3 separate regions of the Homo sapiens genome follow, and all the other regions are linked to region 1. The links come from fine-mapping of genetic effects on gene expression. A gene starts in region 1. Each other region holds a variant in brackets. All regions are shown on one strand. Distances are between the middles of the regions.

Evidence for each region. PIP is the estimated chance that this variant, and not a neighbour inherited with it, causes the effect.
Region 2: its variant is the best candidate, but not a certain one, in a credible set for the expression of POLR1A in prefrontal cortex (BrainSeq, PIP 0.70).
Region 3: its variant is the best candidate, but not a certain one, in a credible set for the expression of POLR1A in skeletal muscle (GTEx, PIP 0.69).

Annotation. Positions count from the first base shown.
Region 1 is chr2:86,104,774-86,107,273 of GRCh38, reverse strand. It overlaps POLR1A (RNA polymerase I subunit A), which reads left to right and starts at 1,388. Exons shown (of 34, transcript NM_015425.6): 1 at 1,388-1,574. The coding sequence starts at 1,498. PTCD3 (pentatricopeptide repeat domain 3) reads right to left here and starts at 1,039. Exons shown (of 24, transcript NM_017952.6): 1 at 923-1,039. The coding sequence starts at 1,026. RefSeq lists enhancers at 729-988, 1,369-1,578, 1,779-1,868.
Region 2 is chr2:86,072,999-86,075,498 of GRCh38, reverse strand. POLR1A (RNA polymerase I subunit A) reads left to right here. Exons shown (of 34, transcript NM_015425.6): 12 at 239-469. Among named protein-coding and RNA genes, the nearest start is that of POLR1A, 32 kb to the left of the region's middle. RefSeq lists enhancers at 1-457, 458-958. The variant G/A (reference allele first, on the strand shown) is at 1,404.
Region 3 is chr2:86,046,812-86,049,311 of GRCh38, reverse strand. It overlaps POLR1A (RNA polymerase I subunit A), which reads left to right. Exons shown (of 34, transcript NM_015425.6): 17 at 70-152; 18 at 270-428; 19 at 2,049-2,147. Among named protein-coding and RNA genes, the nearest start is that of POLR1A, 58 kb to the left of the region's middle. The variant C/G (reference allele first, on the strand shown) is at 1,302.

The DNA of each region.
Region 1 (2,500 bases):
TGAGAACGGATGCTGAGGAAGAGATTCTGCTTCAGGCAAAGAAAATGAGTAGAAAAATGCTAACGATGGCTACCAGGAAACGGAGGACTGGCATTGAATGGCAGCACAAAGGTTTCTGCAGTATCAGATGGAGTGGTTTCTCTTTCTTGAGGGGAACTAAGGGAGAGTACATATAAAAACATATTGTAAATTACATACCCCACTTATACCTCACAAACTTTTCGGATGGTTATTACCAACTCTAGTCTGCAGATGAGGAAATCTGTCTATTATCATCCAATTAAGTGAATGGCAAACACTAAACCTAAAATTAGGCTTTTAGCAAGTTTTCACTACAAATTACTGCCTCTCATATTCCCACAATGCCACTGTTTGTACTGAGTGAAAAAAAAATTACACAGATAGGTCATACATGTTCCAAGCTATAACTATCACAGATCAAAAGGGCATAGTCAGATCTTTTAGACTTTTCTGCTTTTACGAAAACCTGATAACTTCTTTAGCCAAAGTCCCCACGGTGGCGACCAGAGACTGCCTTTTATTTGGGAAGATCTTGTACGTTCTCCTCGCTCCTCCTGATTGGGTTAAAATGAGTAATGGCGGATAATTTTTAATTTGGGGTAGTGTTGCTAATAGCCACACTCACTGGAACGCAAGCTTCATGAGAGCAGGGTCCTAGCTTTGCGGATGGTGTTAACTACAGAATATTGCAAGCAACCAATAAGTATTTCTCTAATGAATAAATGCGTTGCGAATCCTATTTCAAAGGGCCACCTCCGCGTACCTGGTCTTAAGGGCACGCGACCGTTAAGGGCGCGCATGAGCAAACCATTTCATCGTGCCTACTTCCACAGCCAGCTGGGAAACATAGGACTAAGGTGACTCCGCGGTCTTCTTCGCGGATACCCTAAGCGTCTCTTACCTGCAGCTGCGTGCCTGTTCACACAAACCCGCCCGCCGACCCGTCAGCGGCTGGCCAAGCCTGCTGCGGAGGCCCAGCCAGCGAACAGCAGATACAACCGCCATCTTTGATTTCTCTGCAGAGCATGTTGGGAAAGCGTGCCTCGACCTTCAGGAAGGTGGGGCGCAGTGGGCGGGGAGCAGGGAACAGCTCCGCTATTGGCTGAAGCGGAAGAAGACGAAAGCAATCATAAAATGGGAGGTTGCAAGCTCATGGTTTGAAAGACTTCGTCACGGAAGCTAAAAGCTCTATACACCCGATTTGCCTCGGAGGAATTTTCCTAAATGATTATTTTGATGTCTTATATATCTTTGATTGTTTTCAAAACAAAAGAGCGAGCAGAGAGTCGTACAACTATTTGTTCCCCCCCCATGTAGAAGTGATCTCATCCACGTAAATGTCGTTCCTGCGACCGCTTCCGCGCGCAAGCGCACGTTGAATCGCGTGGTGACTCCGGGCTTGAGGTTGAATTAAGAATAGTCAGGTGGTGAGTGGAACGTCTCTTGGGGTGTCGGAATTCAAAACGGACCTGGAGGATGTTGATCTCCAAGAACATGCCCTGGCGGCGGCTGCAGGGCATTTCCTTCGGGATGTATTCGGCTGAAGAGCTCAAGTAAGGAGTTGGTCGGGTAGCGTGCCCAGCCTGGATCTTGAGGTCGGCGCCCTAAACTACGATTCCCAGAAGCGCTTTTGCCCAGTCTATCCTCTTGAGTCCAGGCTTGTCTGGCGCTTGTCCTGCTGGGAGCCGTAGTTCTGGGAACGTTCCTGGGCCGGCGTGGACTGCCTGGATAAGAGGCCGGTGGTGCTGGGGGAAAGAGTTTGCGCTGAGGTAGGGGAATATAAGGGTGGGGAGGGTCCTGGTCTGCAGCGTTATCATCTGCCAGTCTCCTCGTTAACTAACAAGCATTTGTGGAATTAACCATAGTGTACCTGACATGGTTAATTAGGCACGTAGTAAGTTTCCTCTTGTTTGTAAAATGATTGTCCTTCAAGTGTCAGTTCAGGCGTTAACTTCTCTTTGCTAGGACCCTGCTATATTCTCGGTCTGGTTGTTAAATCAAGGGAACTCTCTTTAGTCTTCATTTTGATCAAGGTAGCATTTGACATTCTCCAATGCACTCTCTTGAAACTTTCCTTTCTTCCAGAACCTTATTTGTCTTCAAGTTCTCCTATTTTTATGACAAATACTTCTACCTCCCTCTCTTCCTCTATCGATCTATAACCTCACAAACATTTATTGAGCATCCAGTTTTTTCCAGGCACCAAGCTAGGCGTTAATGACACATTGGTGAGCAAGGTCTGTACCTCATTTTACTCCTTAAATGTTGATGTTCTTCAAGATTCTATTCTAGTAATGTTTTCTTCATGGTAAATATTGTCCCTAGACAATCTCACCACTTTCATGATTTATAGTCTCAAATTTAAATCCCCAACGCAAATTTATTTCCCTGATTTTCAGACCCATTTGTTCAGCTGTCTGTACATCTTTAATTGAATTTCACACAGAGATCTTAAATGCATATCAAAAACTCAACATGG
Region 2 (2,500 bases), 32 kb after region 1:
GCGCTTAAATTATTCTCCTCAGACTAACTGGTAGAAAAGGAGGCCTAGTCTCTATACCATTAAGGGAGTAGCAGAAGACAGGCAGGATGTTACTTTGCTCACTGGAAGACCTTCTTGGCCAAGTCAAACAGCTCCTCCACATCTTGGGTGAAAAGACAGCCTGTTGAGACAGATTTGGGGTCCATCAGACCTTTTTTTATCCCTGCCCTGAATTTCTACCTCCATTCCTCATTTCCAGGTGTTTGCCACAAAACTGACCTACCCACAGCCAGTTACCCCATGGAATGTTCAGGAACTTAGGCAAGCGGTCATCAACGGCCCTAATGTGCACCCAGGAGCCTCCATGGTCATCAATGAGGACGGCAGCCGCACAGCCCTGAGCGCTGTGGACATGACCCAGCGAGAGGCCGTGGCCAAGCAGCTTCTGACCCCAGCCACGGGGGCACCTAAGCCCCAGGGGACAAAAATTGTGAGTAAGGGCAGCTTTGGTCAGGGACCCATCCGGCTCCTGTTCGGATTCTGGTGATTGGTGGCCATCAGGTGTGGCTCCGGTGCGCACTGACACAGGAGCCCATCCCTAGGAGGAAGCTCCCCGACACGTGGGTGGCTTTTTAGATTCACCTTGTAGTCTCCGGGCAGAAGAATGGCTGCCCTTAAACAGGACTACTCAAAGGGCAGTCCCCAGACCAGCATCAGCAGCAGCCCTGGAGCTTGTGAGCAATGCACATCCCCCCACCTCTACTGAATTTGAATCTCTGAGAATAGAGTTCAGAATCTTTCTTTACCGTGCTTTCCAGGGGGTTCTTCTGCATGCTGATGTTTGAGAGCCACTCTTAGGAAGGGAGTGCTCTGTGCCAGTGATAACCAACAAATAACAGGTTATAACTAATGTTTCCATTTTGGGCAATTGCTAATGCTAGCCCATAGTGCTGTGGTAGGGAATCCTGAGGCTCTATCAGGTTCCACTGGAAGGAGCACATGATCGATTAACAATGTTGCTGAGTGCATGAAATCAGCAGGTGACAGCTCTGTGGCTCTGTCACATAATAGCCATTCCTGCTGGGAGGGGAGTAGCAGATGACCCCTAACTAGGCAACAGTGGCAGCAGTTGTTGGAGGGAAATGGATTCGACTTGGATGTAACCCACAAGTGACTACCGGAGTCAATAGGTGACTGCCTGGATTTTCCTCACCCACCTGCACAGAGGGCCTCTCCTTGCCCTCTGCCCACCCATACCCATGGCTGACCTGCCCTTCTTTAACACTGAGTTCACCTCTGCAAAGTTGCATCAGCCTTGAAGGAACTTTGGAGGAACCGAGAGGAAAAGGAAATGCTCCTGGCCTTGCGGCGGTGCCCATCACTGCTCATCACAGGCCTTCTTGCTTCCTCTCGTTCTCACCGCC[G/A]TCCTGAGGGGCAGCAGTAATACACTGCCTGTATTACTGTATTCTCCTTTGGTGACAGGGCACATGCAAACATAGATCAAGTCACCTCTTTTGTTCTTCTCTAGTGCACGAAGTAAGGTTTGTATTCAGGTTCGTAGAATCGGTCTGCCTTTCCTAAGTGCCTGGTGTTTCGCTAGGCACTGTGTGAGCAATGCAAAAAGAAGCAAGGTGTGTTTCACTTCACTTACATTTAACTCAGGTCAAACATGTGAAACAGACTCACAATAGGAAAGGATGAGAAAGAGACTAGGAGAAGGGGTGAGGGATGAGGCAGTACTGATGCCCCCTGCATGCTAGCACTTTGCAGTCCCTGCAGACGGATCCTCGCCACCCTGGAGTTGACAGCATGGTGGGGGAACCACTAGGAAGTAAGCATATAAATGTATTGCTGTTGCGGAGGGGTGTGGTAGACACCATAGGGAACAGCAGTGACAGACAGTGACTTTAAGCACATAATGTCCAAGAAGAAACAAGTTTGAGGGGAATGTGCAGGGCAAGTGGGCAGGGAGAGTTTGGGGTCATCAGGAGGCAACTGTGAGCCAGGTGCTGGGGCCAGCCTCAGGGCTAAAGAGGGGACTGAAGGCAGCGAATTCTTGCTGCTCTCTCAGGCCTTAGCAAGCCCTCATTCCTCTGGGGTCAGATAGTAAATATTTCTGTGGTCCTGGGCCATGCAGGCTCTGCTGTAGCTGCTCAGCTCTGCCACCTAATACCAAAGCAGCCACAGGTAGTACACAAACAAATAGGCATGGCTGTGTTCCAATCAAACTTTATTTACAGAAGCAGGTGGCCAGCCTGAGGACTGTAGTCTGCTACCCACCAAAACCTGTCATTTTTTTTTTTTTTATTTTATTTTTTTTTGAGACAAGGTCTCGCTCTGTCTCCCAGGCTAAAGTGCAGTGGTATAATCACAGCTTGCTTCAGCCTCCACCTCCTGGGCTCAGGTGATCCTTCTGACTCAGCCTCCCGAGTAGCTGGGACCACAGGTGTGGCTAGTTTGTGTATTTTCTGTAGACATGGGGTTTCACCATGTTGCCAAGGATGGTTTCCAACTCCTAGGC
Region 3 (2,500 bases), 58 kb after region 1:
ACTGAGTTTAGTCTGGTGGGAGAAATCAGGCCTGAGGTCGCCTACAAGCTTGTCTGTTTCACTTCACAGGCGTGGAAGACATTTTGGTGAAGCCAAAGGCAGATGTCAAGAGGCAACGTATCATTGAAGAATCCACCCACTGCGGGCCCCAGGTAAGGAGGGACTTCGAGGCCGTGGCCTGCCCTAGAGGGGTGAAGTGTGTGCTGAGTCAAAACCCACACTCTCGTCGTTTGGCCTCAGCCTCCGCTGTGTTTCTGTTCTCATTCTAGGCTGTCAGGGCTGCATTAAACCTGCCAGAAGCCGCATCATATGATGAGGTCCGAGGAAAATGGCAGGATGCCCATCTGGGCAAGGACCAGAGGGATTTTAACATGATTGATCTGAAGTTCAAGGAGGAAGTGAACCATTACAGCAATGAGATTAACAAGGTTAGCCCAGCATTGCATGCATTTATCCCCACCACTATGAATGCTGATTTTTAAAAAAATTACATTTTGATTCTCACCTGGGCCCTACAGAGCACCTTGGCTGTTGAACAGCTGACTAGGTGAGATGCGAGGTGGGATGGGTAGAACTCGTTGTTTTGAAGGGCCCAGGGCTTTGTTCCCTGCCCCAGTTAGGGTCTATACAGGCCTCAGAATAGTGCCAAGAGAGAATGCTTTGTGCTGTTTTTCTTTATAAATGTTTTTATTTTGGGGTGACTGCATTAAAGGGGCTGAATGGGGCCACCAGGGGTGAATAAGCAGGGTGAGGGACCCGGATCGCCCTGGCTGCTCATGCAGCGGAGCCAGGAGTGAAGGCTCAGGTTCCAGTCCTGGCTCTGCCTTGAACTTGCTGTGTGACCTTGGGCAAGTGAGATAACCAGTCCCTGCCTTGGTTTCCTCACCTGGAAGTGGGGCTGTGAGGGGCACCACCTCACAGGGCTGCAGAGAGGCTTCAGGAGCTACTAGTACACAATGCCAAGCCAGTTCCTGGGCAGTTGAGAAAGGAGAGGGGAAATCTCTGCATGAGCTGAAACCACAGCCTGCTTTTCTCTGCCTTTCTGCCCCAGAGCCAGGGTTCTCCATCCTGCTGCTTGGAGGAGCTGGCCTGGCCCTCACCCTGCCTCCTGGGCCCTGGGGCCCAGCCTGAGGAGTGGGGAGGAGGAGGCAATGCCAACACTCATCAAAAGTCAAAGTTCGTCTGTAGTGCTCTCTTGCCTGGCTTTTAGCATCCCTTAGGCTGCTGAGAAGACCGACTTCTCATGGGGACAGGTTCCATCCTTGAGGGGTTTTGTTGACAGGAGCTTTCCTAGCACCTCC[C/G]TGAGAACCAGGAAGCTCAGCTTCTAGGGCTGACTGGGGATGCTAGGAGTAGGGAAGTTGTCTTCAGATGCATCTCAGAATGGTTTCTTGTCCCTCCAGTTGCCCTCTTCCCACCACCTCCGCCCACCCAGGCTCTGCCTCTCCTGTGTTGGGCCAAGTCTGTGGAATTCCAGGCACAGGCTAGAAGCCCCAGACTCAGAGCCCCCTTCTCAGCATCTCCCCAGGATCCCCCTGAAGGGGCATGCTTGGTTCTGCTGGCTCTTGAGCCAAGACAGAGCTTCCTACATGGGGCTTGGGTGGCATGTTCGTAAATGTGACATGATGCGGATGTTGGTATTCACGCTGGGAGAGGACCCAGGCCAGGCTCTGCTGGGCGAATCAAGGGCATCACCTTAAATTTTATTCTTCTCCAGCTTCTTTTTAGAATCACGAACTGGATCTGCCAGCCCCTCTACTTCTCCTTTTCCTTCTCCCTTTTTGCTGCTCTTTGGCCAATGAATGAAACCTCGGGGATCCTGGCAGAGGAAGTCCAGCGAGTGCAGGGCAGGGAGCACCTGTTTGACCTCTCAGGGGTTCCAGGGAAGGATTAATGCTGAATGAGGCTTTCTCTTACCTCGAGTGGGATTTGGTACTTAGGTCTGAATAAATATTCTGGCTGTATTGCTTCTGCTTCCTGGATTTACATCCTGATTCTGGGATTTTTAAAGAAGGTGAAGTCACTGACCACTGTGCTGATTTAATCTGCAGGCATGCATGCCTTTTGGCCTACACAGACAGTTCCCAGAGAACAGCCTGCAGATGATGGTGCAGTCGGGAGCCAAAGGTTCAACTGTGAACACGATGCAGGTATGTGCAGAGGCGGGTTGGCAGCTTTACAGGTGTCAGCAAAGGCAGGTGGGGGATAGCAGGAGGTGGTTTCAGTTTGTTCCCTATAAAACATGACAAGTAAAAAGAGGAAAGCGTGTAGAAATCACTACAGGAGCTAACCACTGTTAACATGCCAATGTTAAAGGCAGATGTAGTTATGAATATGCAGATGGGATATGTATAACGTAGATATATATTACAAATTTACAAACTGTACTATTACATATATTCACGTTATATAGATAAATTATGTATACTCACACAATTTTTACGTAATTTTGCATGATTGTTTCTTTCTTTCTTTCGTTTTTTTTCGAGATGAAGTCTTGCTC